4 separate regions of the Homo sapiens genome follow, and regions 1, 2 and 3 are each linked to region 4. Evidence: fine-mapped expression QTL. A gene starts in region 4. Each other region holds a variant in brackets. All regions are shown on one strand. Distances are between the middles of the regions.

Region 1 (8,000 bases), 21 kb after region 4:
GATCTCAACTCCTCAACTCACTGCAACCTCCGCCTCCCAGGTTCAAGCAATTCTCCTGCCTCAGCCTCCCAAGTAGCTGGGATTACAGGTGTCCGCCACCACGCCCAGCTAATTTTTGTATTTTTAGTAGAGAAGGGGTTTCACCATGTTGGCCAGGCTGGTCTTGAACTCCTGACCTCAGGTGATCCACCCACCTTGGCCTCCCACAGTGCTGGGATTACAGGAGTGAGCCACTGCGCCCGGTCTATAAATATTATTATTATTTGGAATCACTTGCTGGTTGGGTCCTGGGAGAGGGGACTGGGTGCCCTCACTGCTTTCCTTTCTCCTAAAAGAGGAACAATGTAAGATAATATTTTAGGACTTTGGAAACAAGAGACCTGGGTTTGTGCTCAGCCTTGCCATTTTATAGCAAGTAATCTGGGGCAAGTTACTTAAACTTTCTGAGATTAATGTGTCACCTATAAAATGGGAATAATAGTACATAACTCATAGGATTCAACTGAACGTTTTTTGTAATGCTCCTAGCCTGGCATCTATGCACGTTAAGCATTTAATAAATAATAGTCTCTATAATGAAGACGATAATCATGAAAATGTCCACTGATTCTCCTCCCAGGTGTGGTTTCTGCAGCTGACACCCCAGATAAGAAAGAGCATTTGGTCCTGGTGGAGACAGGAAGGTAAATTGCCCCTGCCCTTGACCTGGGGCTCCCCTTCCTGGAGCAGAGCCCATACTCTGCAACCTGGCCTGCTGGGCCATTGCCCACTTCCTCAAAGTTTCTTCCCTTGCTCCAGGATGATTTGGGTTGGGTGTTGCTGCCCTCTGCTGGTGGCTCTGGGAAGTCTGGTCCCCATGCATCTGGGCCTGTCGGAGCTGGCTCTGATTCAGGCCTCTGGGGTCTCAGGACCCTGTATCTGCAAGGAGAGGGCCGGCTGGACTTCACGGCATGGAACGCAGCCATTGGGGGCGCGGCTGGTGGGGGCGGCACAGGGCTGCAGGAGCAGCAGATGAGCCGGGGTGACATCCCCATCATCGTGGATGCCTGCATCAGTTTTGTTACCCAGCATGGTGAGTAGGCACTGGCTGGTACTGAGCCAATGGGGGTGGGGGGTGGGGGTGATGAGGGGGTGGAGAACGTGAGCACAGCCAGGGTGGAACGTGAGCACAGCCTGGAAGAGCTTTGCCTCCAGAAACTGCAGCTGGACCCCAGCTGGTCATTTGACTCTTGGCAGGCTGCTTTGCTTTTCTGAACCTCAGTTCCATCATCTGTAAAATGGGGCCAACGGTCCTCATTTTCCAGGATAATTGTGACAGTGAGACAATGCCTGTCAAGCCTTGAGCGCAGGGCCTGGCATGTAGTAAGTGTTCAGAAGTTTCGTCAGAGTGTGGAGTAGGGGAGGAGCACTGAAAATGTGACTGAGGACACAGAGCCATGGCAAACAGCGAGCAGCTGCGAGGTGAGAGCTGAGCTGTGCAGCACATTCCCAGAAGTTTTAAGCAGAATTATTCTGTGTGGGAGGTTTTCTGGGCTTAAATGGTCAGCTGTGCAAGTGGCCCCCATAATTCTTTGTGAGTTTTTTTGGTTGTTGTTGTTTGCTTTTTTTTTGAGATGGAGTCTTGCTCTGTTGCCCAAGCTGGAGTGCAGTGGCATGATCTCAGCTCACTGCAACCTCCGCTTCTCGGGTTCAAGCAATTCTCCTGCCTCAGCCTCCCAAGTAGCTGGGATTGCAGGCGTGCCCCACCACACCTGGATAATTTTTATATTTTTAGTACAGGTGAGTTTTACCATGTTGGCCAGGCTGGTCTCAAATTCCTGACCTCAGGTGATCCACCCACCTTGGCCTCCCAAAGTGCTGGGATTACAGGTGTGAGCCACCACACCTGGCCCTTTGTAAGTTTTTTATCCTAAATAAGGACCGAAAAGAATCTATTTCTCCTGTGAACCCTCTTTAGAAGGCTGGACTCTTAAGAAGGAAAATTCACAGAAAACTAAGGTGGGCAGATCCCTAGATCATTTATAATACCTAATACAATGCAAGTGCTGTGGAAATAGTTGTTATGCTGTATTGTTTTTATTTGTATTTTGTTGTTGTTATATTGTTATCTTGGGGTTTTTTTCCAAATATTTTTGATGTCGGTTGAATCTGCAGTTGTGGAGCCCATGGATACAGAGGGCTGACTGTAAGGAAAAAAACAGCGCCTCCACAAACATACACATAATTGTTACTAGTCATGGGACATGGAAAGTCAGTGGCTAATAACATTTTCCATGCCTTGGCAGTGGCCTTGTTCAGTGACCTCCCCCACTCGCTACATCCTTATCCTCTTCTCAGCCTCTCTCGTGTTCGAAGGAGGAAATAAGTCAGAGGCCCAGTGAGAAAGCCCTGAAGAAAGAATATGGGGCCGGGCGTGGTGGTTCAAGTGTGTAATCCCAGCACTTTGGGAAGCCGAGGCAGGTGGATCACCTGAGGTCAGGAGTTCAAGACCAGCCTGGCCAACATGGTGAAACCCTGTTTCTATTAAAATACAAAAATTAGCCAGCCATGGTGGCGGGTGCCTGTAATCCCAGCTACCCAGGAGGCTGAGGCAGGAGAATTGCTGTGAGGTGAGGTTGCAGTGAGCTGAGATGGCACCACTTCACTCCACCCCGGGTGAAAGAGCAAAACTCTGTCTCAATTAAAAAGAAAGAATCTGGGTGTTCATCCCCTCCCCTCCAAGGTTCCTGCACCACCATTGTTTAGTCAGCATACATTGGTTGAGCTGCTACCGTGTGTCAGACACTGGGGATATGGCAGTAAGCAGGGTGGGTCCTAGGAGGGTCCTAGGAAGCTTATTTATTACCCATCTCTTAGGTAATAAATAAGAAAACAAATATAGTCTGTTCTTGTTATTTGTGGTAGTTATGCTCTAAGTCACTGCAAACATTTAATTAGTGAATACTGGATCACTGCCCCAGAGGAAATACAGGGTTAGCTTCCTGCTAGCCTCTGGTTACAATAACATTTTAGTCAAGTGATCAATATGTATCCTTGTTTTGTGTGTTTTTCTGTGTAAAGAGACCTTATTTTATATATATTGTTTGATTTGTTAACACTGAACTCAAGGCCAACAGCACTGTAACTCAAGCTAATCTAACACATGTATTTTCTCTGTAAGGCATGTCACAGCTTTCTCACACGTAGAAACACTAGACAGCATTTCAGCACTATACTTGGGCCATTTTAAACAGTGAAGTCACCAACAAAAAGCACAAAAATATGGCTGTAAATATACCATTAAAAGGATACACTTGTTTAGAGTAAGAACATGCACATTGGGGAGGGGACTTAAATTTTTCTTCACTCTGTTCATAAATGATGATGAAAATGCCAAAAGTATTGATTTTGGGGTTACAAATAACTTTTAGCAAGTAGGAGAATGTGCAGATATGGAATCCACAGATAATAAGGGTGGACTATAAAGTGATTTCAGAGAGTGCTATTTAAAAATAAAAGTGGTGAGGAGATACAGTGTGATGGGGGTTGTACTTGTGACAGTGAGGTCAGGGAAGGACTTTCTGAGGATGAGGACTCCAGCAGAGACCTGAGAATCAAGAACATGGAGGCATAGATCTCCTCCTCTCTGAATCCCATGCCCCCATCAGCCACATACCACATAGGGAGGCCACAGATGGGCCGTGGTGGGTGGTGGTAGCCTTTGCACCATGGTGAGCAGAGACGGCTGGCTCTCCTCAGGGCTCCGGCTGGAAGGTGTATACCGGAAAGGGGGCGCTCGTGCCCGCAGCCTGAGACTCCTGGCTGAGTTCCGTCGGGATGCCCGGTCGGTGAAGCTCCGACCAGGGGAGCACTTTGTGGAGGATGTCACTGACACACTCAAACGCTTCTTTCGTGAGCTCGATGACCCTGTGACCTCTGCAC[G/A]GTTGCTGCCTCGCTGGAGGGAGGCTGCTGGTATTCCTAAGATCCCTGAGAGCCAAGGCCCAACCAGGATCTCTGCCTTCCCCCACCAGAATCCATGGTTTGGCAGCCCTCCGCCCCATCACTTCCCACCCTGGGGGATCATCCAGAGACTTGGCTCAGGGGGAGGTGGGAAGGGGGCAGAGACACATCCATCCTGCATTTGTGCCTAAAAATCCCTCCCTCTGTACCAGCTGCCACTCTTTCTTCCCGGGTCCTCCCCAACCCTCCTCCATTCCATCCCCAGAGCTGCCCCAGAAGAATCAGCGCCTGGAGAAATATAAAGATGTGATTGGCTGCCTGCCGCGGGTCAACCGCCGCACACTGGCCACCCTCATTGGGCATCTCTATCGGTCAGTATGGCTAGACCCTCTGCAGAACCCTTCCTCACTTCAATCTGACCCTGCACTTTCATTCATTTATTCATTCATTCATTCATTTGTTCATTCCACAAACAGTTGTTAAGTGAAGGTATCATAGCACTAAGGTTCAGAGAATGGATTTGAGGGATCAGGCAGACCTAGGCTTTAATCTGGTGCCGTCATTCTAGCTGTGTGACTTTGGGTAAGTTACTTGTTCTCTCTGGGCCTCAATTTCTTCATTTCTAAAAGGAAGTAATGGATGATGTAATGAATCATATCCACCTCATAGTTTATGAGAGAGTTAAATGAAGGCTGGGCGCGTGGTGTCTCACACCTGTAATCCCAACACTTTGGGAAGCAAGGTGGGCGGGTCATCTAAGGCCAGGAGTTTGAGACTAGCCTGGCCAACATGGTGAAACCCAGCCTCTACTAAAAATACAAAAATTAGCCTGGCATGGTGGTACATACCAGTAATCTCAGCTACTCAGGAGGCTGAGGCACGAGAATCGCTTGAGCACAGGAGGTGGAGGTTGCAGTGAGCCAAGATTGTACCACTTCACTCCAGCCTGGGTGACAGAGGGAGATCTTGTCTCAAAAAAAAAAAAAAGAAAAAAGAAAAAAGGAAAAAAAAAGAACAAAAAGAGTTAAAATTCATAAAATTCTTAACTATAGTACATGCCAGTACATCCGGCATGTCATAAGCCTTCAGAAATGGTTAGCAATCAATATTATTTTGTTTTATTATGCGATGTCAGGGAAAGGGTTAGATATAAGAAACACAAAAATGAATAAGATGCACATCTACCTTTACCAATCTGTTAGGGAGACAGGCCTTTGAGCAATTCTGGGGAGAAGCCATTTCTGTATTGCACTGATTATACTATATTACAGGGGCCAGGTATGGTGGCTCACACCTGTAATCCCAACATGTTGGGAGGCCAAGGCAGGAGGATCATTTGAGCCCAGGAGTTGGAGACCAGCCTGGGTAACATAGTGAGACATCCCATCTCTATAAAAGATAAAAATAAATAAATAATAAAAATATACTATATTATAGGGATTGGTCAACTACAGGCCCATGGGCCAAATCCAGCTTGTTGCCTATGTTTGTAAATAAAGTTTTGTACATAAAGTGTAAAGCCACACCCATTCATGTATATATTTTCTTTTTTTTTTTTTTTGAGACGGAGTCTTGCTCTGTGGCCCAGGCGGGAGTGCAGTGGCGCAATCTCGGCTCACTGCAAGCTCCGCCTCCAGGGTTCACGCCATTCTCCTGCCTCAGCCTCCCGAGTAGCTGGGACTACAGGCACCCACCATCACGCCCGGCTAATTTTTTTTGTATTTTTAGTAGAGACGGGGTTTCACCGTGTTAGCCAGGATGGTCTCGATCTCCTGACCTCGTGATCCGCCTGCCTCGGCCTCCCAAAGTGCTGGGATTACAAGCGTGAGCCACCGCGCCCGGCCCATGTATATATTTTCTATAGCTCCTTTCATGATGCAGCAACAGAGCTGAGAGTTAGAACAGAGACTGTCTGTCCTGCAAGCCTAAAATGTCTACTATCTGTCCCTTTACATAAAAAGTTTGCTGATTCTTGCCTTATCTGTCTCCCCTAGACTGGGAGCTCCTTGAGGCCAATATTATCTTACTGCTGTATTCCAAGCACTTAGCCCAGGCATACAATAGGGACTCAATAAGTGTTTGCTGAATGAGTGGCTACACTGATGAAGACCGTGGCACCCCTCTGCAGGGTGCAGAAATGTGCGGCTCTAAACCAGATGTGCACGCGGAACTTGGCTCTGCTGTTTGCACCCAGCGTGTTCCAGACGGATGGGCGAGGGGAGCACGAGGTGCGAGTGCTGCAAGAGCTCATTGATGGCTACATCTCTGTCTTTGATGTAAGGCTTTCCTGACCCCTAACCCACAACCCCTTTCCCCTACCCTTGCAGGACCCAGAGACTCTGGATCCTGATCACCCCAACAAGCCCCCAGCCCAGGCCTCTGGTGGCCAGCTATACCAGGAACTACCTCCCAGAGCCCTGGCCCTTCTTCTCCCACAACTTCACTTCCAACATCCTCACCCCCTTGGTTCTTAGCTCTTCTGGCCTCCAGCCCTCTTAAACAGGTCCTCCTTGGCCTTGAGATCTTCCCGGCAGATCCTCTTCCAGCACCCCAACACTCTCTTTTGGCTCTTTCACAGATCGATTCTGACCAGGTAGCTCAGATTGACTTGGAGGTCAGTCTTATCACCACCTGGAAGGACGTGCAGGTAACTCGTCCTGACCTTAGTCTCCTGAATGGGGCAGGAGGAGACATCAGGACAGGAAGCTGACTTTCTGCCCAGTTGAGGAAGTTTCCAGCCTGTCCTTCTGGACACTAGCACTCAGCTCTTTGGGAGACAGGGGGAACCCAATGAGAGAAGTGCTTTGGGGAGTGGGGTTTGGTTAGGGTTTGCTCCATTTGTTCCACCATGAGGATTCTTCCTGGTGATAATCTTGGCACTGGATAGTTGGTTTTGGTTTTCTGTGGGAACATCAAGTGAGACCATACTACTAAGTGTAAGAGATCCAAGGACGAGTTAGTAAAGTCAGACAAAGCAGTGAGAATAATAATAATAAATATAATAGCAAACATAGCTGAGGACTTACTATATTCCAAGCATCTCTAATCTCATGTTAGTATGATACAACTCCATGAAGTAGGTAATCTCATTTTTTTCAAATAAACGGGTTCAGCGGGTCATTTATTCAAGGTCACCCTGTAGCGAGTGGCAGAGAGACCAGGCAGTCTGACTCCACATCTGTCCTCCCAACCACTATGATGCCTTGGGAAGTACATGTGCAGCCTAAAGATGCAGTTCTGCCACTCCCAGAGGTCTCCCTTTTAAGAGCCTGAGTGACATTGGGGTTGGGAGGAGACCTTTGTTGGAAGAGTCACTTATGAGGCAACACGAGGAACCCTCTGACTTTGATGTCTTTTGCACCCTTTTTTTGCCCTTCTGACTTTTTTACCCCTCCCCTCAGCTGTCTCAGGCTGGAGACCTCATCATGGAAGTTTATATAGAGCAGCAGCTCCCAGACAACTGTGTCACCCTGAAGGTTGGTCCTGAGGGGACTGGAGGGGAAATAAGAGGATAGTGAGGTTCCAGGGGCAATAGCCTGACCAGCATGAATTCTCTGCTCTTGCCCTGACCCCAGGTGTCCCCAACCCTGACTGCTGAGGAGCTGACTAACCAGGTACTGGAGATGCGGGGGACAGCAGCTGGGATGGACTTGTGGGTGACTTTTGAGATTCGCGAGCATGGGGAGCTGGGTGAGTATGACCACGCCTGTGTGTTCATGCATGTGTATATGCGTGTGTGTGGTTGTGTGGTCAAGGTCATCAGTGACTTCATGTTACCAAATATGAATGGTAACTCATGGATGACTCATCCACTCATCCATGCGAGGGGACATTCAACACAGTTGACTCACTCCCTCTTTCTCAGTATTCTTCCATCTTGGCCTTAGTGACCCCCACAAGCTCGTAGTTTACCTTCTACCTTAAAGGGAGCTTCTCTTCCTCTTTTGCCCAGACTCCAAATGTTGGAGAGACCCACGGCTCAATCCTAGGCCCTTTTCTCTCATCTATCTACATTTCTCCTTGGATGAATTAACCCATTCTCATGGTTTTAAATGCCATTA
Region 2 (8,138 bases), 47 kb before region 4:
AGAAGTCTGAAATCAAGGTGTCAGCAGGATTGGTTACTTCCTGGAGGCTCAGAGAGAAAATCTGTTCCATGTCTCTCTCTGAGTGCCAGAAAGGTTCTTACCCTTGTCTGAGTGCACTAGGAGGGGCAAAAGGCAGTCAATTGTGGTCTCCCGCCCTCAAGAGCTTCCGGTGGCTGCAATCCTTGGTTTGTAGACACATCACCCCAATCTTACCTCTGTGGTCACATAGCATTCTTCCTGTGTCTGTGTCTGTGTCCCCTCTTCTTAGAAGGACACCAGAGTCTTTCAATTAGGGTGCACACTAATCCAGTGTGACTTCATCTTAACTTGATGACATCTGCAAAGACCCTATTTCTATATAAGGTCACATTGACAGGTACTGGGAGTTAGGACTTGAATATATTTTGGAGGGAGTGGGACACAATTTAACCCTCAACAGACTAAGTCTTTGCCAACTTTTCCTTTCTCCATGAGTTCTTCCCTGATCTGTCTCCCTAGACTGGTTAAAGTCAGGGCCTCTGGCATGTGCTCCCCCATCATGGCACTTAGCTCACTTATTATTATCACTTCTTTAATGGTCTCTCTTCCCAGCTCTGAGGGGCTAGGGCTGTCCATTTCTTACTCACCATCATATCCCCAGCACCTGGCACAGTGCCCAGCTGTGACAGGATCTCAATAAATGCCTGTTGAATTAATTAAACCATTTATTCACATAGTGCCATACATGAACCATAATTCACATGCATGAGCACAGATACCTTACATATGTGTGCAAACATGTAAATCAAGGGTACACACAGACACATGAAATCTATATACAGTGTACACATACATGCCAGGCCCTGAATAGAGTTCAGCAGATTCCAATTAGCCAACCAGTCATGGATGAGTTCCAAGAAAGCCCAACCCTTCTCTAAGTGCACTGGGAGAGGCAAAAAGGGGTCACCTGTGGTCTCCTGCCCTCAAGGGACTGATGGACTAATTGGAAAAACAAGACTAATATATGATGAGAGATACCATAGAATTTAGTTATATTCTGTGAGCTGTGAAAGCTCAGAGGAAGGAGCTCTTATTGTAGGCTGGAGTAGTCCAGAGAGGCTCCCTGGGGGAGGTGAGAGTGGAGCTCAACCTTCCTATGTGGGCAGGATTTGGACAAACAGAGAAGAGAGAGGGGAGAAGGGGAGAGAAAAGGAGAGGCATGAAATCAACATGTACAGCAAAGGCCCAGGGGCCAGTTCATGGGACCAGTCTGATGGAAGGAACCCATGCTAGCAGCTGTGTAAGGAAGGGAGATCTAGATGACAGAGGGCCTCAGTGCCAGTTGGAGGTTCTCCAGCTTGTCACAACACCGGGTAGTCCAGGCTCTATCTGCTAGGTGTGGGGAGCTATTTCTCCAGAGCTTAGTGACCCCAGCTTCAAAGGGCTGGGGGGAAGGCAGGAACATGCTGACTGTGTATCTCAAGCTATGGGAGCATGAGGCAGGCCCTGGGAGGACTCCTCCTCCTCAGGAAGCCCTGAGTGGCAGCAGCACCTGCTAGAAAGGCAGAGTCAAGCCCAGTGACTCCCTGCCTGGGAGAGGTATGTGACGAGCTCGCAGAAAGCTTCAGGGACACCTTTGTTGGCAAAGCAGCTCCTGTCAGCCCCCAATGACAGGGTGGGTATGGGTGGCCATCAGGTGGAGAGAAAGCCTCTCAAAGCTCCTTCCCAGCCCCAGAGCCCTGACACTAGCAGGTCCCTTGAGACAGGCCTTAGAGCTCCTGGCCTCTCATGACTCTAGCTTTCTGGCCTCAGAGCCCCAGTGGTGACAACACCCAGCTAAAGCACTGAGTTGAGCTGCGGGAAGTGGCAAGAGTCCTGCCTATGAAGTATTTTGCAACATTTAAGAGCAGGAGCTCTGGACATTTGGATTCAAATCCCAGCTCCACGCCATTCTTGCTGTTTGTTCTTGGGCAAGTACTCAACCACTCTGAGCCTGCATTTCCTCATCTGTAAAATGGGGATAATTGTAGCTCTCTCCATCAAGGTTATGATGCTTGAGTGACTCTCACTAACTATTCAGGAAATGGGAGCTACGTATTTGTCTAAATGCTCCGATTCCATCTGCATTAATATTAGTGGCTGATGTGCAGTCAGAGCCCAGGACATCCGATCTCAACTCAAAAGGCAGACAGGAAAACCTCACAGGTTGTCCAGGCTGCAGAAAAACACCTTAGTATATAGGCATCTAAGCACCTTTCTCAGGTCCTGCCACAGAGCACAGCAATGTCCCCTGCCCCTCTCCCATGCCTCCCACAGCCCAGGGGACCCGAAGTAGACAACGTAGTGAAAGCTGATGAGGTATCTGTTTCATGGCCATAGCATGCCCTGCCCAACTGGGCCTGAGCCTCTTTCTGACTGGGGTGTATCCTGGGGCTTTAGCCTAAGCTCAGATAAGGCCAAGAAGTAGAGAGAAGAGACTTAGAAAGGAAGAGGGGGCAGCAGTACCTGCCTCTCATAAGAGAGGCTTTGGAGATGGTGAATTTCTTTTTTTCAATACAGAAAGAAATGATCATTTGTCATCTAGGTTTAGGAATCCTGCAGCAACAGAGAAGGGGCCTGGGAAGTCAATATAAGGCCTCTATCACCCTTCAGGCCTCTGTCTGACCTTGAAATTGTCCATGTCCTAGGGATTTGGGGCCAGGAAGTAGTGGTTGCCATGGAAACTTGGAGAAGCTCCCAAGAAGAGAGTGGAGACTGCAAGGAAGAGAAGCGGGGCCAGAGGTTAGAAAAGAGAAAATTTGGCTTGGGCCTGGGTCCTTCCTACTGTGGACACCACTTCCCCGTCCCTTCATGCATTGCTCAGAAAGGCCCCAGTAGCGAGTAGGGGAGAGGTAGGCAGTAAGTTCTGTGTTTGAAAGGTGAAGTGATGTTCTTGAATCTATAGTGATGGGGTTCTGGAAAACCCTGGGGCACCTGGGTGGGTCACTGAAGAAGATCTGGGCAACCAGGTGGAGCTGGAGCCAGGCAAAGGGTGATATTCACCAGCTCCTGGACATCTGTAGCTACTGGCTGTTCAGACAACATGGGAGACAGCCCTCCTGCAAGAAGCAGGAGCAAGGTGAGTGGTCCAGTCCAAGTAAGCACTGGAAATGTGAAAACGGATGATCACCCCTGCTGGAGGGCTGGCCGGCTAAGCAGGCTCAATGGAGAGGGAAGAACAAGAAGAAGCCCACAACTGGACAAAAAGGACAGATGGAGGGGACAACACGAAGGGAGCCAGAGGATAAGGGAGGAGAGTTAAGGGAACACGCAGACAAGAAA[G/T]ATCTAGGGCAGGTGGACATGGGCCATTCCCCAGGCCACAGGGACTCAGGGATCTCTCACCCACATCCATCCAGAAGGCCAAAGACAGCCTCATAAAGGGGTGACAAGGCTTTCCTGGCAGTCCCCTTCCCAGCTCTTCCTAAGGACTCAGTCTGCTAATTTGATACCATTTATTCAAGCTTACCCATGGCCAGCCACAAATCCTAGATTACTGAGGAATCAGAGGCCAATTTTCTGGGCTTGCTTTAAGGTGAAATAAGGCACTCACAACTCTAGATAGCCAAGCTCCTAGAAGAACTCATCCTAGAGTGGTGCGCAAGCCCAGGAATGTCAGAGCCCACTCTTGAACTTCTCCTCCTCTCTCAACAACCAGTCCCCAATTTCCTAGCCAAGACACAGTGGGATATGCGGGGGTGGGGTGGAGGCAGTCCTAGATGTCTTTTTCTCTTCTTTCTCTTTGGCCCCAGAGAACCCTGTCCTCCAGGCTGCTGGGCCCCAGGGAGCCTCTGTGAAACCCCATTTCCTCTCCATTCAATGACAAAGTCCCTCCCCTCAGACTCTCTGACTTCTGTCCCACATCCTGAGCATTTCTAGGCCAGAACCTCCAGCCACCAGGATCACAGAAGCCTGTCGGCCCTGCAGCTCCAAGCAGGCAGAAACGCTAATTGGTGTTAATGGAGACCAGGCCAGAAACTCACAAAAGATCCCCTCTTCCTGACCAGAGCCAGGCCTGGGGCACAGCCAGGCTGCTGGCTTCTGCTATCTGCTAGTAGGAGGAGGGGATGACGTGGGGGAGAGTGCGCAAGAGTGGGGTGACCCTCTGGGGCTCCCCTCACCTGAGCCTCCTATACACTCAGCAAGAGGCTGGCTTTTCTTGCGGCCCCTTAAAACAACTCCTCAGGTAGACCAGAGCACCTTAAGTACTTTGCCCCCTCAAAGCCTGCCCTATATGCTTATTTTAATCTAATCTTGCTTGGAACAGAAAGCTCTGAAATCAGACTGCCTGTGTTGGTATCCCAGTAACACACCCTAATATGTGCGAACTTGGACCAAGAATGGTGCCTCTATTTTCTTGTCTGTGAAAAGGGAGTAATACTACCTACCTCACTGGGTTGTTGTGAAGATTAAATGCTATCCAGAAAAAGCTCCTAGCATAGTTCCCAGCATGTAGTAAGCACCCGCTCAATGAATGGTAATTGTAGTTCTATGATTATGATTATTATTTCTTGGGCTCAGTTCCCTTTGTTGTGGGAAGTTCCTGTTCCAAGACTTCGACACCGAACATAAAGAATGGAATAGAGCAGGCACCCCAGAGAAGTTTGTTGAATAGATGAAAGGAAGAGAGAGAGGGAGGAAGGGGGGGAGGGGAGGAAGTAGAGGGGGAGGAAGGGAGGGAGGGAGGGAGGGAGGAAAGTGGATGCATTTATCAGAGGTAAAACCACTCTTATAAGTAGATCACTGTTTAACACTCCATCTAATAGACCGTCTGTCATTGCCTATAATTTTACCAATGTTGACTAATTCCTTTGAGTAAAGCACTGCCCTCTTCCCATTGAATCCCTTTAAAATGCAAACTGTCACACTTTAGTTTGAATGAATTATAAGATTGACTGAGAAGAGATAGTTTGAAAGCACTAGAGCCTCCGTGGGGAAGATGGGAATTTTGACATGGAAAGTGCCAAAGGAATGGAACAATTTTATAGGAGGCTGGCTCTAAGAAAATTGAGTGCAGGACACTGCAATTTCCCTTAGTAACAGTTCAGATCTGGCTGAACCTCATATTCAAGAATGTCTTTCCTTGTCTCTGTCCCAAATCCCTCATGCTGTGGATTATAGGACAAAATGATCATCTATTTCTCCACGTTATGGGCCCAGCACAGAAGGTATGACTGTATTTGTTCCTGGAGATTTCTTTTTCTCATGGCAGGAACTATCCATATGCAATCTCAATCCTAAAGTGATTTTCATTTGCCGGGGAAATTTGAAGACTATCTCTTGCCAGTCTGAGGTTAAACACAGAGGGAAATCTAAATGCAATTTTCCTGTTTGAGAAGCAGTTACAATATTTTTAAGCAATTGAAGCTTCAAAATTTCAAATGCAATGTGCAGTTAGGCCTCAGCTACAGGAGCTACAGATTTTTCAAAGTTTACAAAACAGTGGAATATCTCACTGGCTTCTCCCTGAAGCTGAGTCTTTGACTGTTTCATAAATGAAGATGTTCTGGGAGACTTGGTGCAGTTTTATTGGCGTTCGGCTTTTGGCTGGGGCCTTTTAAAGTAAATGTTACATGGGGAAAACGTAAGAGGAAAGATGTTATAACAAAGTGTCAGAGCAATAACACGTTTTTAATAGCATTATTTATCAGCATTTATTGGTGTTTGGAGTTAACAAACACTCTGGTCCATCCCCAATGAGCGTTTGCAGTAAATTTAAAGAACTTGTTTTGCCTTTGGCACAGTGAAGATGACCCAACTAGGATCCTTGTGTCATTTTACACAGATGGTCATGGGCAGAGACCAACTTTTGGAGACGGGGGCTGAGAGCATACAGATACCCTTAGCCAGTTCTCATATTTTCCCTAACCCATTTTCCATGGCTGGAGAGCCCAGTTGCTATGGTCTAAATGTTGGTTTCTCTTCAAAATTCATAAGTGGAATACCTAATCACCAATGTGATGGTATTAGAGTTAGGGCCTTTGGGGATGATTAGATCATGAGGATTAGTGCCCTTATAAAAGAATCCTCTTGGCCAGGCACAGTGGCTCATACCTGTAATACCAGCATTTTGGGAGGCTGAGGCAGGAGGATTGCTTGAGCCCAGGAATTCAAGACCAGCCTGGGCAACATAGCAAGACCCCATGATATAGTTTGGATATGGGTCCCCACCCCAAATCTCATGTTGAATTGTAATCACCAGTATTGGAAGTGGGGCCTGGTAGGAGCTGATTGGATCAAGGGGATATATTTCTCATGAATGATTTGGCACTATCCCCTTCTTGGTGCTGTTCTCATGATAGTGAGTTCTCATGAGATCTGGTTGTTTAAAAGTGTATGGCACCTCCCTGCCTCTTTCTCTCTTACTTTTGCTCTGGCCATGTGATGTGCCTGCTCCCCCTTTACCTTCTGCCATGACTGTAAGTTTCCTGAGGCTCCCCTAGAGGTTGAGAAAATTCCAGCATCATGCTTCCTGTACAGCCTGCAGAACCATGAGCCAATTAAACCTCTTTTCTTTATTAATTATCCAGTCTCATCACCTAAGGTCAGGAGTTCGAGACCAGCCTGGCCAACATGGTGAAACCCCATCTCTACTAAAAATACAAAAAAAAAAAAAAAAAAAGATAGCCAGGTGTGATGGTGGGCACCCGTAATCCCAGCTACTTGGGAGGCTGAGGCAGGAGAATTGCCTGAACCCGGGAGGTGGAGGTTGCAATGAGCCAAAATCACGCCATTGCACTCCAGCCTGGGTGACAAGAGTGAGACTCTGCCTCAAAAAAAAAAAAGAAAAAAGAAAAGAAAAAATTATCAGTCTCAAGTATTTCTTTATAGCAATGCAAGAAGGGCCTAATACAGAAAATTGGTACTGAGGAGTGGGGCATTGCTACAAAGATACCTGAAAATGTGGAAGCAGCCTGAATCCCAGAACTTTGGGAGGCCAAAATAGGCAGATCACTTGAGGTCAGTACATTGAGATCAGCCTGGCCAACGTGGTGAAACTCTGTCTCTACTAAAAATACAAAAATGAGCTGGGCATGGTGGTGCATGCCTGTAGTCCCAGCTACTTGGGAGGCTGAGGCACAAGAATCGCCTCTGGGAGGTGGAGGTTGCAGTGAATTGAGATCGCACCTCTGCATTCCAGCCTGGGCAACAGAGTGAGACTCTGTCTCAAAAAAAAAAAAAAATGTGGAAGTAACTTTGGCACTGGGTAACAGGCAGAGGTTGGAAGAGTTTGGAGCCCTCAGAAGAAGACAGGAAGATGAGGGAAAGTTTAGAACTTCTTAGAGACTGGTTAAATGGTTGTGACCAAAATGCTTATAGTGATATGAACAATGAAGGCCAAGCTGACAAGGTCTCAGATGGAAATGAGAAACTTAGTGGGAATTGGAGCAAAGGTCAAGCATGTTATGACTTAGCAAAAAGCTTGGCTGGACTGTGTCCATGCCCTAAGGATATGTGGAAGTTTGAACTTGAGAGTGACGACCTGGGGGCTGGGCCTGATGGCTCACGCCTATAATCCCAGCATTTTGGGAAGTGGAGGTGGGTGAATTGCTTGAGCTCAGGAGTTCAAGACCAGCCTGGGCAACATGACAAAACCCGATTTTTACACAAAATATAAAAATTAGCTGGGCATGGTGGCTTGTGCCTATAGTCCCAGCTCCTCAGGTGTCTGAGGTGGGAGGATCACTTGAGCCTGGAAGGTGGAGGCTATAGTGAGCTGGGATCACACTACTGAATTCCAGCCAGGCAACAGAGCCAGACCATGCCTCAAAAACAGAGAGAGAGAGAGAGGACGTGATGACCTAGGGTATCTGGAGAAATTTCTTTCTTTCTTTCTTTTCTTTTCTTTTTTTTTTTTTTTGAGACCGAGTTTCGCTCTTGCTGCCCAGGCTGGAGTCCAATGGTGTGAGGCTCACTGCAACCTCCGCCTCCCAGGTTCAAGCAATTCTCCTGCCTCAGCCTCCCAAGTAGCTGGGATTACAGGCATGTGCCACCACAGCCGGCTAATTTTGTATTTTTAGTAGAGACGGGGTTTCTCCATGTTGGTCAGGCTGGTCTTGAACTCCCGACCTCAGGTAATCCACCCACCTTAACCTCCCAAAGTGCTGTGATTATAGACGTAA
Region 3 (8,138 bases), 25 kb before region 4:
ACTAGCCAGGTGGGTGGGAGGCGAATCCAAGGCAGAGAGAATAGCATATGCAAAGGCCTGGAGGCCAGACAGAGCCTGGCGCATTTGGCAAAGTTTTGAAGTTCAATTAGACTGGCACAGAGCCTGGGTTCCAGGAGTGATGCAGGCTGGGGCTGCAGAGGTGGAGGCCAGGGCTGGATCTGGAGGTATTGGGAATAGTGAGCCTCCCTCACTCCACAGGCAAGAGTGCTTCTGCTATGAAGCCTTGCCTGCGGTGATGGAGAGGCCAGCAGTATGAGGAGGGTGCTCCACCCTCATCCTCACCTTGCCCAGTGCCACTCTGCTTGGAGCTGCCGGCTGTCCATTAGGCAGCCTCAGTGCAAGAGGCTCTCTTTCCTCATGCGATACATGTCACATCCGGGAACGATCAAAACAGCTTTGCTTTGGCAAAACGTCTTGTGCTGCGTGTTTGTTCTTTGGAGTCTGAGCGTAACTCCTGTTGTTCCCGACACCTGTGATTTGCTGGTCTGTGACAGCCATTACCTGCTCAAAGTCTCTGCCTGCCACACAACCCACCTGGTGCCACCCCCATTCCTTCCTCTGCCATCCCCAGAGCAGTAAATGCCTCTCCAGGCCACAGGGGTTGGGGCCAGCAGTGAATCAGACATAGTTGGCAAGGATGGCCAATTTTAGTAATCACCTCTACCATTTGGGAACGTCTACTGTGCACCAGGTGCTTCGAATGCCTTGTTTTTAGTCCGCCCAACAACCCCACAGTTAGAGTTCATTTTCTGTATTTAACAGAGGCACAGAGAGGTTAGGAAGTGACCCAAGTCCACCATTTGATAAGTATGAGGAATAGGATTTGAACTCAGATCTCTGCACCATTGGCTGCACACTTGCCACCATGTCAGGCTGCCTCTCCAGCTCACTTGCTCACAGCTGCTGATCCTGAATGGAGGGGCCTGGGACAGCTGAAATTTGACATTGGCATTGGGGTCAACTCATGGGAGTCAGTCCATCTGGCCCCAGGACCTTCCATTCCTGAGGACAGACCCCCTTGGAGGTACTAGACCCCCAGTGTTGGTCTCCACAGCTTGGATCCTGACCAGCCCCTCGCCTGTCTCTTGCAAACTCAATCCTGTTAAGCTCTGACACCTCCAAGCTCCTTCCTGGGGTGATCCTTTAGCCTTCAACACTTACCCACCAAATCTCCACTTCGAGTTCATGTGTATCAAGCATCCAGTTCACTGTTATTATCATTATAATGGGGGAAGCACAGCCTCATGTAAAGCTTGAGGGCCCTTCCCTGTTCCCTGTACCCCTTTTCTTCACTTTCTGGGATCTCTGAGGGAACCAAAGGAGATTCAGGCCCTCCATTTTGTGATAAGTTCCTGGAGGGCAGAGCCCTATCTGACTTATTAACCTGTTTCCCTAGTGCTTGAACTGCAGTAGGTGCTCAGAAAACATATGCTGAGTAATAATATCCACCGGTGCTCTTGCTTATGGAGCTACACTGAAAATCTCTTTCACATGATACCATTTAGCTAAGACAGTAACCAATATAAAGTAGGTATTATTTTCCCCACAGATGAGGAAACTGAGGCTCTGAAACATAGAGCAATGTGCCATAGACCACAGCTAGGAGGTAGTGGGGCCAGGATTCAAAACCCAGGGTTGCCTGACTCTAAGCCTGTGCTTCTGAACACGCATCCTATACAGCCTCCTTAATACAATCCATGGATGAATGGAGGAGTTCTACGTGCCCTGCCCAGTCGACTGCCCAGCCTGACCCCTTCCCACAACCTCCTAGGATGCTAGAGTCCTCCACCCATGCTGCCCCCTCTTCTGCCCACAGGCTCAGAGCAAAGCCTCTCCCAACAAGGCTTATTATTTCTAATCTTAGGAGAAAAACCTCAGTTCAAAGGCATTTTCTATTCCATTCAAGTCAAAAAACAGTTCTCACTTTGCCTCTCTGACCCCCTACCACCCCCACCTCCTCCTCCAACTGGCGCCAATAACGCAAGATAAATCTTTCCTCAGAAATATAATAGTTGTTCTTCCTCTTCTCGTTGAAGCCTTTGCCAGGTAATTAGCATATGCTGACACCTTGATAGACGAAAAGAAAGGCATGAGATAATTCCCTTTTTCTTTAACCATTATAGTATGAAGCAGCCTTTCAATTTGCCAGTTACCCAATCCAGCATTCCTGGACGCAGCCCACCGTGTGACATGTTATTCTAGCTGATCCTACCATCTCTGGTATTCATCACCAACCCTGGGTCACACTTGATAGAGCAAATTCCCCTTCTTCACATTGACACTTTTCTGGGAGGAGGGGCAGCCAGGGTTCAGAGGGTCTGGAAATTGTGGGGATGATGTGGTCATACTTGGGTGGGCACCCCCAGCTGACAGCCTAAGGCCTTGCAAAGGCCTGCAGAGCCCTAGGGGTCACTTTCAGAAGCCCTCTCTCCTTCCCCTGTTCCTTTCCCGCTCCCTAAAAGAAGCTGGCCTTTGATCAGACTTTGGGAGTCCCTGTATTTAGTGCAGCAGGAACCTCAGCTTGGAGTGAATGGTTTTCTCTCTTCTCATCAAAAAACACACACACACAACATGCACAATGACACATACACACAAAACATGCACGCACACTACACGTGCACGTGTGCGCGCACACACACACTCCCACTCTGGGCTCATGGCCTGGGATCTTAGGGTTGCGCCCAACCTCTTTGGAGGGACTGTCCCTCTATGGCCATTTATATGCTCACAGGGTTGATTTTATCCTTGACGTTTTGAGGGATGAGGGAGAAGACGACACTTAATTCCTTCATTTCACAATGTAGTAAGTGCCTACCAGGCACTATTTTAGACATTGAAGATACAGAGATGAACAAGACAGGCAAGGGGCCCGGCCTCATGGAGCTTCCAATCCAGCCCGAGGAAGCATACAAGAAATAAGCCAGTAAAAGATATCATTTCAGATGGTGATATGTGCTTATTAGGGAGACAAAACCAAACAGGTGAGGTGATGGGGAGGGAGTGGGAGGACTATTTTAGACAGAGTGGCCAGAGGGCCTGAGATTTGAACTGATACGTGAACGAAGATGAGCAAGCCAGCCATGCAGGAGCTGGGGAAAACATTCCCAGAATGAACAGCAAGTGCAAGAGTTCACAAATGCACCAGGTCCTGCACTGGGTCCAGTTTCTTTGGAGGGATCTGTTCCACCCTACATAGCTTTGACTTTCGCTGGTACTACTGAGGGTGAGACAAGCAGCTTGCTTGTCCATTTGGTGAGGGTAGAAAAGTTGCTGCCTGGGTCTATCTGTTAGCTAGGACTTTCCCAGGCTAGGGACTACGCATCACGCATCTGAGCAGAAACCAGAAACCAGATCAACCCTGTTATCTTGCCAATGGCTGCCCAAGGAAACTTCCAGCCCTCCCATCCCTCAACTCCTTTCCTGAAGGACAGGTCCACTCCAGGCAGGAGGTTCAGTGGCCTTAACTTCTCTTTCCTGGTTTGCCCATCTGCTCCTCCTCTTGGCTGGGACAGGTTCCCGACACCCCCATGCTTGGCCCGGGGGATGGGATGGGGAGTGGGGAAACAGTGTGCCAGCCAGCCTTCACCAGTGCAGGCACACCTCCTTTCCTCTCAGTTCTGCTAAGATAAGGTAAGATTTTTTAAAGGAAACGTATCAACCAAACAGAGGGAAGAAAAAAGGGGAAAGAAGGGGGAAATGCAGATGCTGGGAAACGGGTCCACAGAGCTGAGGTTCCTGACTCTAAAGGAACTTACGCCTGGCCACAAGCTCACTTGACCTTCTGAGGACTTAATCTTCCACCACCACCACCTCTGTGGCTCCAGATGCAGGATGACCTTGGGACCGCACCCAGGTTGAAAGGTGCGGACTGGTCGCTGTGTTTGCTATTCTGTTGTGGGAGAAGGGTCACTGGGCACAGGCCCAGGGCCCGACCGAGCCTCAAGGAGCCTGTCCTTCCTCTGCTTCCCAGGGGCTCCTGTTGGGACTTCCACACGCCTCAGCCTCAAACTGGTCTCCCCACCTCACCCTGCCCCCACCCCAGTCTATTCTCCACACACAGAAACTGGAGTGATTGTTTTAAAAAATTATATGTGAATCAGATTATATCATTTATGGTTAAAAACTTCCACTGAATAAACACTATCATAGGCTGAAAAAGAAAGGCCTAGATACATGGGATGGACAGTATGAACAGCCGCCCAGGCCCCTGTTCAGAGAAGGGCTCGTTGCCCCTGGTACTGGCTTG[C/T]TGTTGGGAAATAGCCTCCAGCTCTAAGCCCCTCCGGGATTGCATCAACTGCAAAGAACTGCCTCATCCAAGGTCATGCCACTTGCGTGGGTCTCTACACCCAAGCACTGACTGATGGGGGAGATGAAGGATGAGCCATCAGCCCAACTCACGACAGCTCTAGAAGAGGCGTGTCCAGCACTGGAGTTCCTCATCCAGCCGGCCAAGGCCACTGCCGGGCCTGTGCTCATCTTCTCCCTCTGCCCATTCCTGCCTCCTGCCCCTCTTCCATGAGCATTGGTCTCCAGGGAACTCCTACATAAAATCATGCACACAAAAACAAAAGGGAAAAATTCTGCTGGCCTCCCATAGTGTTTTAGATTTTTAAAAATATAAAGCTATGTATTTTTTACAAGGACCAGCAATGCCTTACATGACTTGAGCCTGGCCTGCCCTTCTCACCTCATGTCACTGAGGCCTTCCTTGGCTACCTTGTCTAAAATTTCAACTTCACATAATTCCTTTTTTATCCTTCTTAGCACTTATCACTATCTATCATACTACATATATATATTTAAACTTATTTATCTTGTTTATTTTCTGTCTTCCCATTAGATCATAAGCTCAATGAGGGCAAGGGTTTTGTCTGTTTGGTTTCTCTTGTAACCCCACAGCTTAGCATAGTGTCTGGCACATAGTAGGTGCTCAATAGTTGCTGAGTGAATCAATAAATGAATCTTCTACCTATCACTATCTCACACAGTACCTGGAATATAGAAGAAATGAAATAAATATTTGTAAAAAAATAAATAGCCATGTCTGCAAGTTGGCCTCTAAGATCCTTTTTCGCTCTGTGGGGCTCCTTTAGTTCCCTCCAGTTTCCCAAGTTCTTCCTGTTGACCCCTCCAGGGCTCTGGTGACAGAATAGTACAAGTCTGTCCCTGCCACGTGTAAGCCAAGGATCACAGACTCTCTGACCATGGGCAGTGTCGTCAGTGGTTACAGTTTTAGAGACAAACTACCTGGGTTCAAATCTCGGTTCTACCACAGATGACCTTAACATCTGTGAGCCTCTCATCTGCAAAACAAGGATGACAGTACCTACCTCAGGGCTTCTGCAAAGTATTTATTGAATGCTTGTCTCCCTACTTGACCCTGAACTCTCAGAGGGCAGGAACCAAGTCTACAAGTTCACATGACTCCTTGGCACTTAGTAGGTGCCTGATGAACATTAGAGAGTGTATTTCCATATTTCCCATTCTACTCAGCACCAAGTATGGGCATGAGCAAAACTGGCTGGATGACACAGCAGAGGCAGATCCCCACTGGCCATGCTCTGATGGTTTCTGCCCATTCTCCTGGATTGAATTACCAGTTGAGAATTACCACTGTTTTCTCATTTGGTAGGTGGAGATAGGAAAAGGAAGTCTGTGGTGGTGACCATCATTCATCCTGTGCCCAGGGTTCTCTGCCTACCCCCAGATCCCCAAGCTACCCCACGGCTTCTCTGCTTGTGAACCTCTGACCAAACCCCAACCTTTGCTCTGGTTCCCCCTCTGTCACTCCAGAATCCAGCTGAGTACCCCCTCCCACCTCCACATGGCCTCTGACAGCTTAGGTCACATTGTTCTTTCCCCTTCCTGACCACCCACTGCATATATCGACTAAATCGTGCTTCCTGGCATTTGCTTCCACCCAGGCTGGCATTTGATTAGATTCTGCTGCAGGTTCTCATTTTACCTCTCTGTCAGATCTCCCCGAGTTGACTTTAATAGTAATAATAGTAATAATTTTGCTTTACATCTGGGAACCCACCGGGCACTCATACAAAGGGATCCCATTTCTTTTACCTCTCTCTGTCTCTATAACCATCCCAGAAAGTAGGCAGGGCAGAGGTCATCTTCTACATTCCACAGATAAGGCAACCAAGGCTCAGAGATGCTCACATCAATAACTCCTCACCTCAGCCTGTTCCCCTTTCACCATCTCAATAATTGGCACCACTGTCCACCAAGATGTCTAAGCCAAAAACTTGGGCATCTCTATCATTCTTCACCTCCTCCTTTCTTTTACAGCCCCTACCCTGCAGATGAAACCGAAATTTCTCTCCAGACCACTCACTCCTCTCCAGTTCTACCACCTTGGCCCATATGTGATGACATCATCCCTGCTCTGGAAGATTGCAAAGGTCTCCCTCCCAGCCTCTGCTATTGCCCCACCCTACCCCATTCATTCTGTACATTGCATCACAGTGGTCTTTTTCTGATGCATACACATTCATTCACTGAACTAATAGTTTTTGAGAGCCTATTCTGTGCCAGGCACTGTTCAAGATGCTGGGGGTACAGCAATGAATAAAACTATTGCCCTCGTGGGGCTTATATTCCAGTGGGGAGGTGAGGGGTCAATAATAAGTAGTCAAGTAAATGTATAGTATTAGACAGTGATCATTGCTATGGAAAGAAAGAAAGCAGAGGAGGGAGTCAGGGAGTATATCCTGTGGCAGGATATAGGCTTGCTATTATATAAGGTAGGGAGAAAAGCCCTCATTGAGCAGACATCTGAAAGAAGTGAGGGAGTGAGGCTTGCTGATACCTGGAGTTATTCCAGGCAGATGGAACAGCAAGTGTAAAATCCTGAGGTGGGATGGCACTTGGCAAGTTCATGTTTGAGAAAGTGCACAGAGACCAGTAAGGCTGGAGGAGTATGAGAAGAGGGAGAGATCTGGCAGAAGGCCACACCTTGCAGGGTCTATAGGCCATTATAAAGACTTTGGCTTTGACCCTGAGTGAGATGCTGCACCAGTGGAGGGGTTGAGCAGAGGCATGACACAATAATTTTAATTGGCTTACATTTTAACAGGACCTCTCCACCCACTGTGTGAAGAACAAACAGTAAGGGCACAAGGGTAGAAGTGGGAAGACTAGTTAGGAAGCCATTGCAGTAACACAGGGAAGAGATGATAATAGCTCGGACCAGGGTAGAGTCTATGGAAGTGGTAAGAAGTGGTTTGATGCTGAATGAGTTATGAAGGTAGAGCTGACAATGTTTTCTGATGAACTGCATGTGGGGTGTGAAAGAAAGGCGTCAGGAAGGATGCCAGGGATGACTGCAAATATGATTTTGTCACTCCATCAATTCCCCATTGTTCTTAGGTTTGTACAAACCCCTTACCATGGATTATAAGGTCCTTCATGATCTGAGCCTCCTCCTCACCTCTCACCCTCCCCACACCATGGCTTCATCTTCAGCAACAGTGAAGAATAATACTATTTAACAGTTACTGAATGTTAACCTCATGCCAGGTCTGGGCTAAGCATTTTACAAATGCCATCTCATCCATTCTCCACAACAATCCAATGAAATGGATATTATTATTAACCCTTATTATTAATAGACTCATTTTACAAAAGAGAAAACTGAGGCACAGAGAGATGAAATAATTTGACCAAGGTCACACAGCTAGCACATAGCAGACCCAGAATTTGAAGCCAGGCATTTGATTCCAAAGCTGTTTCTTTAACCATTATGGGAGATGGAAATTTCAGTTCTCCAATCACTCATGACTTCACTCTCTTAATCCCTGTGCCCTCCCAACAGGCAATTCCCTGGGCTTAGAATATTTTTCCTCCCATCCCTCACACATTCCTAACCCTCGATCTTTGTCTGGTTAAATTACCCTCCTCTGGGAAGCCAAGTCGGGTGAAATACCCCTCGTCTGTGCTCCCACAGTTGCCTGGGCTTGTTCTGTTACGGCTCTGCCCACCCTGTGGCCAGGCTGTTTATGGACCTAGGTCTCCCTTACTAGACATGAGCTCTCTGTGCAGAGACCAGATTTACCTGTCTCATAGCTGTATCCACGAAGTGAAGAACAGTGGCTGGTATGCCAGCA
Region 4 (8,123 bases):
CTCCTGGCATGGAGACCAAATCTCATACAAGCCCTCCAAGGGCCTGCATGGCCTGGCCCCTGAGATCCTTTCAGTCTCAGCTGGTCCCAAACTCCCTGTCTCTTTGATCTGTCTCCCTTCCTCACCAGGCTGACTCCTACCTCAGGGCCTTTGCACTCGTGGTTCTTCTGCCTAGAACACTCCCTCCCATCCCGCTTAACTCCTACCCATCTTTCTGAGATCTCAACTTAAGCAGAGCTCCCTGCAGAAGCCTCCCAGACCCCCAGGCCAGGTCAGCTGCCTCTGTTATATGCTCTTACAGTGCTTCCCTTCAGAAAATTCATCTTGGTTTGTAATTACACATTTATTTGGGGGTTGTTTGATAAATGTCTCACTTCTTGAGCAGGTCATGTTCCCTAAAGTCTGCTGAGCACGTCATTGCATCTCTAAACCCTTGAGCAGTGGTTGGTCCAGAAAAGATGATTAATAAAAACATGAGAAATAAATGAAAGGATTGAATGGGAGTCTTCCTTCCTGTAAGAAACATGCTCGGCCGGGCGCAGTGGCTCACGCCTGTAATCCCAGCACTTTGGGAGGCCAAGGCAGGCGGATCACCTGAGGTCAGGAGTTCAAGACCAGCCCCGCCAACATGGTGAAACTGCGTCTCTACTAAAAAAAACCACAAAAATTAGCCGGATGTGGTGGTGGGCGCCTGTAATCCCAGCTACTAGGGAGGCTGAGGCAGGAGAATCGCTTGAATCTGGGAGGCGGAGTCTACAGTCATACGAGATCGCACCACTCCACTCCAACCTGGGCGACAGAGGGAGACTCTGTCTCAAAAAAATAAATAAATAAAAAGAAACTTGCACCTTGGCATCCCCCTAGGCCCTGTCCCATCTCATCAGGACCAAATGTGGGTGATGGCTGTGCCTTTTACCATCCAGAGGGTAAGGGCAGGAAAGGAGTGTGACCTGGAGGCCACTGGAGACCATGGAGGCGATCAGGAGTTGCAGGGGTGACAGGAAATTGAGTTACAAAAGTGATGGAACAGACAAGATGACAACTGGGGACCCTGGGGAAAATACAAGGGGTACAATGTGGTCTAATTTGGCAATAGGATGCCACAGGCTGATTGATTAAAATAGGTAACGGGATATGCCAGAGTGATGAAGAAACAGGCAAGCTGGGTGCATACCAGAGTTATCATGGAAGTAACTGGCAAAAATAGGAACAAGGAACAGGAAACACTTTGAGCACTCATTGAATGTCAGGTCCTTTCCACATATTACCCATATATTTCCATAGATTAATCTTTACAACCCTGTCAGGCACTATTCTCTCTCCTTTTTTCAGAAAAGGAAACTGAGGCACACAGGGCAAAATAGAGATGAATAATCTGCTCAGGTCACAGCTGGTAGAGGTGGCATCAGGGCTTTATTTTAGAGACTGTTTTTTTGTTGACCTTTTGTTTTAGTTTTTGTTGTTGTTGGTGGTGGTGTTTTGTTTTGTTTTTAGAGACAGGCCTCACTGTCACCCAAGCTGGAGTGCAGTGGTACGATCTCGGCTCACTGCAATCTCCACCTCCTGGCTCAAGCAATCCTCCCACCTCCACCTCCTGAGTAGCTGGGACTACAGGTGCACACTACCACACTTGGCTAATTTTAAAATTTTTAGTAGAGACGAGGTCTTGCTATGTTGCCCAGGCTGGCCTCAAACTCCTGCTCTCAAACAATCCTCCTGCCTTGGCCTCCCAAAATGCTGGGATTACAGGTGTGAGCCACAGTGCCTAGCCGAGAGACCTTGTTCTTAATTACTGCATACCATCCACTTTTGGTGAACAAAGTGGCCTCCAAAGTGATTGTGGCTTAATAGTCTATCATTTGAGTGGGGAACAAATCGAGACATGGAAGGGGCTATTGAAGAATTCCCTTCCACATCTCCTCATTGCTTCATTCTTCCTCTTCCTCTGCTCACTAGTGTCCCTTTTGTCCTATGTGTTAAGATTAAGATTTAAGATTTACTAATTTCGGCCGGGCATGGTGGCTCACGCCTGTAATCCCAGCACTTTGGGAGGCTGAGGTGGATGGATCACCTGACAGGAGTTTGAGACCAGCCTGGCCAACATGGTGAAACCCTGTCTCTACTAAAATACAAAAATTAGCTGGGTGTAGTGGCAGGCACCTGTAATCCCAGCTACTCGGGAGGCTGAGGCACAAGGCTGAGGCACGAGAATTGCTTGAACTCAGGAAGACACAAGCCAGGGGCCAGAAGCCTCCACCTGCCCCATATCATTGAGCCAAAGAAGGGAAGTGGGGTCTGAGGGAGGAAGCCAGGTCTCCCTCTCTGTGGCTCTGCCCCATCATCTGGCATTGGTGTCCTTAACTTGGAGTCAGTGGACTTGGATGGGAAAAGAATATTACTTTCACTAATCTCTAGCTGAAATTTAACATTTCCTCCAATTATGACAATAGCAACAAACCAGTCATTTTAGCCATAACTATGGCTTTGTCACCAGTAGAAATCACATATATTTTTATATCATATTACAATATTGCAGATCTTTTGAAATACCATTTATGCTCATCACTGCATCAAAGTTATGTGAGGTATCAACCTACCACTAGATCTTATTTAAAGCATTAATAAAGAAGCACATATATTACTATATCACATCGGTTTTATATGTGTATTACAACATAATTGGTTTCCTTTGCAATCCTATATATTTTATTTTATGCATTTTAAAATATTATTCTGAGATGAGACCACATACTTTACCGTATTGCCAAAGGAGAACATGGCACAAAAAGGTTCAGAACTCTTGCATCTAGCCCCTGACCCAAACTCCCCGGCATCCATTCCTCAAAACTCCCTGTGCCCTTTACTGTCTTTTCCTGCTCCCTTATTTTGCTGGGTTAGTCTGAGTCCTTAAAGAAGAAGCTGCCAAGGCAGAATGCAAGGATTTGACTAGGGGAGATGCCTGTGAGAGAGGAAGGGAGCCTGGAGCTAGGAGAGCTGTGAAGGAGAGAGGGAAGGAATAAAGGTTGAGAGGAGCATCCTAAAACACCAGTCAAAGGAAAGTTCAGCAAAGCCATTGGGAAATCTTGATCCAAAGTCAGCTGTCAAAGGAGTCCCCTATCTCCCAGGAATGGGTCTGCCTTAGATCTCTGCTGAGCTCTGTCACTGGCTGGGAGCAGCCCAGTGGGAAGCTGGCCTTAGATTTCAGAGAGAAGCAGCTGGGGCCATTGGTTAATTTCACTCCTCACAGTGTAAGATCTGTGAGGAGCATTCTCACTGCCACCACAGTTGCCCATCTGAAAAAAAGGACATGGTGCAGGGGTCCTGTCCAGGGTGGTAGGTGAGCATGGTAGTTATAGATATAGACTTGGAGGGTTGGCTATTTTCTAGCTGCAGAGTCTTGAGCAAGTTATTTAATGCTCCCTGTCTCCTTATATGTAAAATAGAGGTGATAAAATTTCCTATTTGTAGGGATATTTGTGAGGATTAAAGTTTGCAAAGCAATGTTTACATAGATCCTGGAGCACGGTCAGCTCTCAATAATTGGTAGCCCTTATTATGGCTATTGCAATTATTATTTTATTACTATAATTCTCTTTCTCAAAGGGAAGGCCGGGAAAGTGGGGCTCCAGTAGGTTGAAGATGACAGTCCCTCCCCTAGCTGAGGCAGCTGGAAGAGGTGGGAACCACTTCCTCCCACTCCCCTCTTCTTCCCCTGAGGCAGGGGTCTTCCCCTAGCTACTGACAGTTCCTGTGTCTGCTGACTCACAGCCAACTTCCTCTCATACAAACAGGAAAACACAGCCGGCCAGCGCCCCCGCCACCCCCAACACATACACACACACACACACACACACACACACACACACACACACACACACACACACAAACACCCCCCCCCCACACCCAAACACTGGTCCTGCTCAGAGAGGGAAGTGCCTCCGCCCCTGGGAGACAGGCTCCAGGACCGGGGTTCCGGCAAGATTAGCGAAGGAGAGAAGGGCCATTCCTCTTCAGGCCTCCCCGGCATCCCCCCTGAAATTTTAGGGTGGGAGTTGGGGAGAAGGGGCGGCTTCTCCCATGAATGAAACAGCTGCTTGCTTGGTCACTGAGCTTGCAGGGCGTCCGCCTGTCCCAAAAAGGCAGCCCCAAACCTTGGTTTGGAAGTAGGGATGTGCCTTGCGGACCTTCATCCCTCGAAGGAACCTAGGCCGGGCCCTTGGGGATGGAAGTGGGGAGAAACAGACGGGTACCCCTCTGCTGGGCCTCTGCGCTTGTTGCCCAGGCCAAGTCTCAATTCTGGATGTCCAGCTTCCGTCCCCACACTAAACTGGTTGCCAGGGTCCAGCCACCCTTCCGGGCGTGGGAGAGGTGCCCTGGGGGATTAGGGCTCGACCTTTCCTCCTCCCTTTTGGCAGGACTGGAGGGCATGGGAGCAGCGGAGAGGATGCAAAGCCGTCCCTGGCACTCTCCCTTTCTCAGTTTCTACCTCCGTCCCAGTCTCCGTCCCGGTCTCTGCCTCTTTGTCCCTCTCCCTGAGGTTGTCTTCGTCCCAACGTGTTCTGGTCCTTTCTCGGCCTGCGAGAGGGCAGACTGGGGGCAGACTCGGAGATAAGCGCGGCGGTTGGGCAAGAAGCCCAAACCCTTTGGAGGCCTGCGCTTGCACAAGGAGTGGCCGGGGCCCCGCGGAGGGAACCGGCCGGGCGGGGCGGGGCTGGGCCCGTCGAGGGAGGGCAGAGGGGAGGCGGGGCCGGCGCGGCGGGACCCAGAACCTCGGACGAGCGGCGGGCACCCGCGAGCGGACGGCGGCCGCGTAGTGAGGTGAGGACCCCCGCGCCCCCCGGGTCCCTGCTTCCCAGACTCCTCCCCATCACCTTCTCGAGGGCCTTCGTGGGCTCCCAGGCCCCCTCGGCGCCGGCGGCCCTCCCCATCCCTGCCACGACCCGCCCCTCCCTCCTGCTGCCCGGCCTCTGCCCCATCCCTCCTCGCCCCCTCCCTCGTCGCAGCCTGCGCTGCCCGCCACTGCCCGCCCCGCCCCCGCCACTCCTGTCCCGCGAGCACCTCAGCTCCCAGCCCCGTGCTGTCGAGCCCGGCCTGAGTCACCGGGAAACCGGGCCCTGAGTCAGGGCCCGAGGCTCAGCACGCGGGCCCTGGCTTGGGAATGAGGCCCAGCTGGAGAGAGGCAGAGGGAGGCCAGCAGTGATGCTGGGACGGAGAGGGCGTCCTGGTCACCGACAGAGCACAAGAGTAACAGGGAGAGAGCCTAGGCCGAGGCGGAAGACAGAAACCCAGGCTCAGAGGCAGACAGAGACACAGATACAACTCAAGATCTGGTTAGAATTGTAGACTGAGTCAAGGACAAGCTTAATAACAGAGAGCAAAACAGGGTGGGACAAGGAGAGGGACAAAGAAGAATTGAGAGGTTGAGATGGAATGGGGCAGGGACAGTGACAAGGCAGAGATAAAACTCAGGGGCCACAGAATTAGAGACAGGTCTATGAAATAGACCAGGGTCAGGGTCGGGGTCAGGCTGGTGGAAGGGGGACAGAGCACAGAGACCTGAGCCCAAGGGAATGAGCAGGGAAAAGGCAAGCTCAGAAAAGGAAGGCTTGGAGAAAGCAGAGGTGGGGGGATGGCATTTCACACTGCCAAATCGCTACAGGGCATGTGCACACACAGGTGAACAGCATGTGAACATGCTGCCGGTGGGCAGAGAGTCCAGAAGCCTCTGGAGTACCCCTGACCAGAGGTCAGGCCTCATCTCTCTGGCATCCCCATCCTTATTCTTCAATTAGCCTCCACCCAGGGCCGGGACCCCACACATTAGGACTGGTTAGGGCTCTCCCGGCAGCCTGACCAAAGCAGGCAGGATGTGGAGGCGGCCAGGGCTGGAGGGACAGGAAGGAAGTCTGAGCAGAGACAATAGGTGGAAGGGGAGGAGGGACTGGGAACAACCAGGATTAGGACGGCAGGCCTGCATACATCGGCTCTGGAAACAAGAGGGAGGGGGCGTCTGCACCTCCTTCCTCCTATCTAGGCTGCCCCTCTCCCTACCTTACTCCAGAGCTGATTGGCCACATCATTGGCCCCTCCTCTGCATCTCCCTATCCCACTCTGACCCACAGCATTCTAGCATCTTGTCCCATGCTTACTCAGTTGGATGTGCAGTCAGGCAGGAGCAGAGCTTTGACCCAGACCCAGGGTGGGCAGGAACTGAGGGGCCAACTCTAGCACTGACTTACTGTGAACCTGGGGCAAGCCCCTTCCCCTCTCTGGGCCTCAGTTTCCTTAACTTCAAATGAAGTCCCTTCCCTAAGTAGAGAGCCATTGCTGTTGTTCTGGGATGGCTCTGCTTCCAGATCGCAGGCCTTTCAGCATCTTTCTTTGGAGGAAGATTGGAGGCTGGTGCTCACTGTCCAGGCCTCAGACTCTGGGGCAGAGAGGGGGATTCTCAGCCTGAGCCCTCCCTTCACCCTGCCCCTCCCCCCAGCAATGGCCTGAGCCCCCATGGCTGCCCCTCAGGACCTGGACATCGCTGTGTGGCTGGCCACGGTGCACCTGGAGCAGTATGCAGACACGTTCCGACGGCATGGCCTGGCTACAGCAGGTGCAGCCCGGGGCCTGGGCCACGAGGAGTTGAAGCAGTTGGGCATCAGCGCCACAGGGCACCGGAAACGCATTCTACGCCTGCTACAGACAGGCACCGAAGAGGGCTCCCTGGATCCCAAATCAGATAGTGCCATGGAACCATCCCCCAGCCCAGCCCCGCAAGCCCAGCCCCCTAAGCCCGTGCCGAAGCCCAGGACCGTGTTTGGTGGACTCAGTGGCCCTGCCACCACTCAGAGACCTGGGCTGAGCCCAGCCCTCGGGGGACCAGGAGTGTCCAGGAGCCCAGAGCCCAGCCCAAGGCCTCCTCCTCTCCCCACTTCCTCCTCTGAGCAGTCTTCAGCCCTAAATACTGTGGAGATGATGCCTAATTCCATCTACTTCGGCCTGGACTCAAGAGGCAGGGCACAGGCAGCTCAGGACAAGTGAGTGGAGTTGGCTCCCTAGGGACTGATGCTGGGAGGAGTGGGGAGGAGAGCATGAGGGGGACGGAGGCGGGGAGCAGGGCATGAAGGCTTGTTCTTCCTCCTCTCTCCTTAAGTAACCAATAGACCTTTCCCTTCAGGGCCCCAGACAGCTCCCAAATCTCTGCCCCCACCCCTGCCCTCAGGCCCACAACAGGCACAGGTAACTGGGTTATCACGGGTTGGGGGAGAGGGATAGTGCCGGCAGGACCTCATACACTCCCAGCGATCTCCTCTTCCTTGTGCGTTCCCCTCTCCTCCTGCCAGTGCACATCATGGATCCTGGTTGCCTGTACTATGGTGTCCAACCTGTGGGGACTCCAGGAGCCCCCGACAGAAGAGAGAGCAGAGGTGTTTGTCAGGGCAGGGCTGAACACAGGTGAGTACTAAATAGGGAAGTGGTGGGAGGGAGGAGCAGGTGAGTCGGTGGCGGCCATGTATCCAGTTATTCAACAAATGTGCATTGAGTATTCACCAGCCAGGCACTCAAGATACAGGATGAGTATCACAGACCTAGTGCCACCCTCAGGCAGCTTGTGACTCAGTGGGACAGACAGGGAATAAAACAAGTAGACAAACCAATGGTCATATAATGGAAAATTGGGAGAAGTGCTTTTCTTTCTTTCTTTCTTTTTGAGACGGAGTCTTGCCTTGTTGCCCAGATTGGAGTGCAGTGGCACAATCTCGGCTCACTGCAACCTCCCCCTCCTGGGTTCAAGCGATTCTCCTGTCTCAGGCTCCCGAGTAGCTGGGATTACAGGTGCGTGCCACCATGCCCGGCTAATTTTTATATTTTTAGTAGAGATGGGGTTTCGCCATGTTGGCCAGGCTGGTCTCGAACTCCTGACCTCAGGTGATCCTACCTCCTTGGCCTCCCAAAGTGCTGGGATTACAGGCATGAGCCACTGTGCCCAACCAGGAGAAGTGCTTTTCATTTTTTCATTCAACAAATATTTATTGAGCAACTATCATGCACCGGATGTAGATGCTTGGGATAGATCAGCGTACACAGAAATCCCTGCCCTTGTGGGGAGATAGTCTATTAACAATAAACAT

The links.
Region 1: its variant is fine-mapped to the expression of ARAP3 in whole blood (TOPMed, PIP above 0.99).
Region 2: its variant is fine-mapped to the expression of ARAP3 in whole blood (INTERVAL, PIP above 0.99).
Region 3: its variant is fine-mapped to the expression of ARAP3 in whole blood (INTERVAL, PIP above 0.99).

Annotation. Positions count from the first base shown.
Region 1 is chr5:141,657,994-141,665,993 of GRCh38, reverse strand. It overlaps ARAP3 (ArfGAP with RhoGAP domain, ankyrin repeat and PH domain 3), which reads left to right. Exons shown (of 33, transcript NM_022481.6): 18 at 620-683; 19 at 909-1,072; 20 at 3,739-3,951; 21 at 4,205-4,310; 22 at 6,068-6,215; 23 at 6,518-6,586; 24 at 7,341-7,415; 25 at 7,515-7,629. Among named protein-coding and RNA genes, the nearest start is that of FCHSD1, 11 kb to the right of the region's middle. RefSeq lists a silencer at 753-822 and an enhancer at 6,933-8,000. The variant G/A (reference allele first, on the strand shown) is at 3,922.
Region 2 is chr5:141,725,421-141,733,558 of GRCh38, reverse strand. No RefSeq gene overlaps it. Among named protein-coding and RNA genes, the nearest start is that of ARAP3, 47 kb to the right of the region's middle. The variant G/T (reference allele first, on the strand shown) is at 3,301.
Region 3 is chr5:141,703,948-141,712,085 of GRCh38, reverse strand. LOC124901092 (a long non-coding RNA gene) reads left to right here. Exons shown (of 2, transcript XR_007058973.1): 1 at 1-7,244. It overlaps LOC124901093 (a long non-coding RNA gene), which reads right to left and starts at 6,285. Exons shown (of 3, transcript XR_007058974.1): 1 at 6,209-6,285; 2 at 4,420-4,561. The variant C/T (reference allele first, on the strand shown) is at 4,268.
Region 4 is chr5:141,678,868-141,686,990 of GRCh38, reverse strand. ARAP3 (ArfGAP with RhoGAP domain, ankyrin repeat and PH domain 3) reads left to right here and starts at 4,761. Exons shown (of 33, transcript NM_022481.6): 1 at 4,761-4,818; 2 at 6,488-7,028; 3 at 7,169-7,230; 4 at 7,335-7,446. The coding sequence starts at 6,505. RefSeq lists a silencer at 4,712-4,761.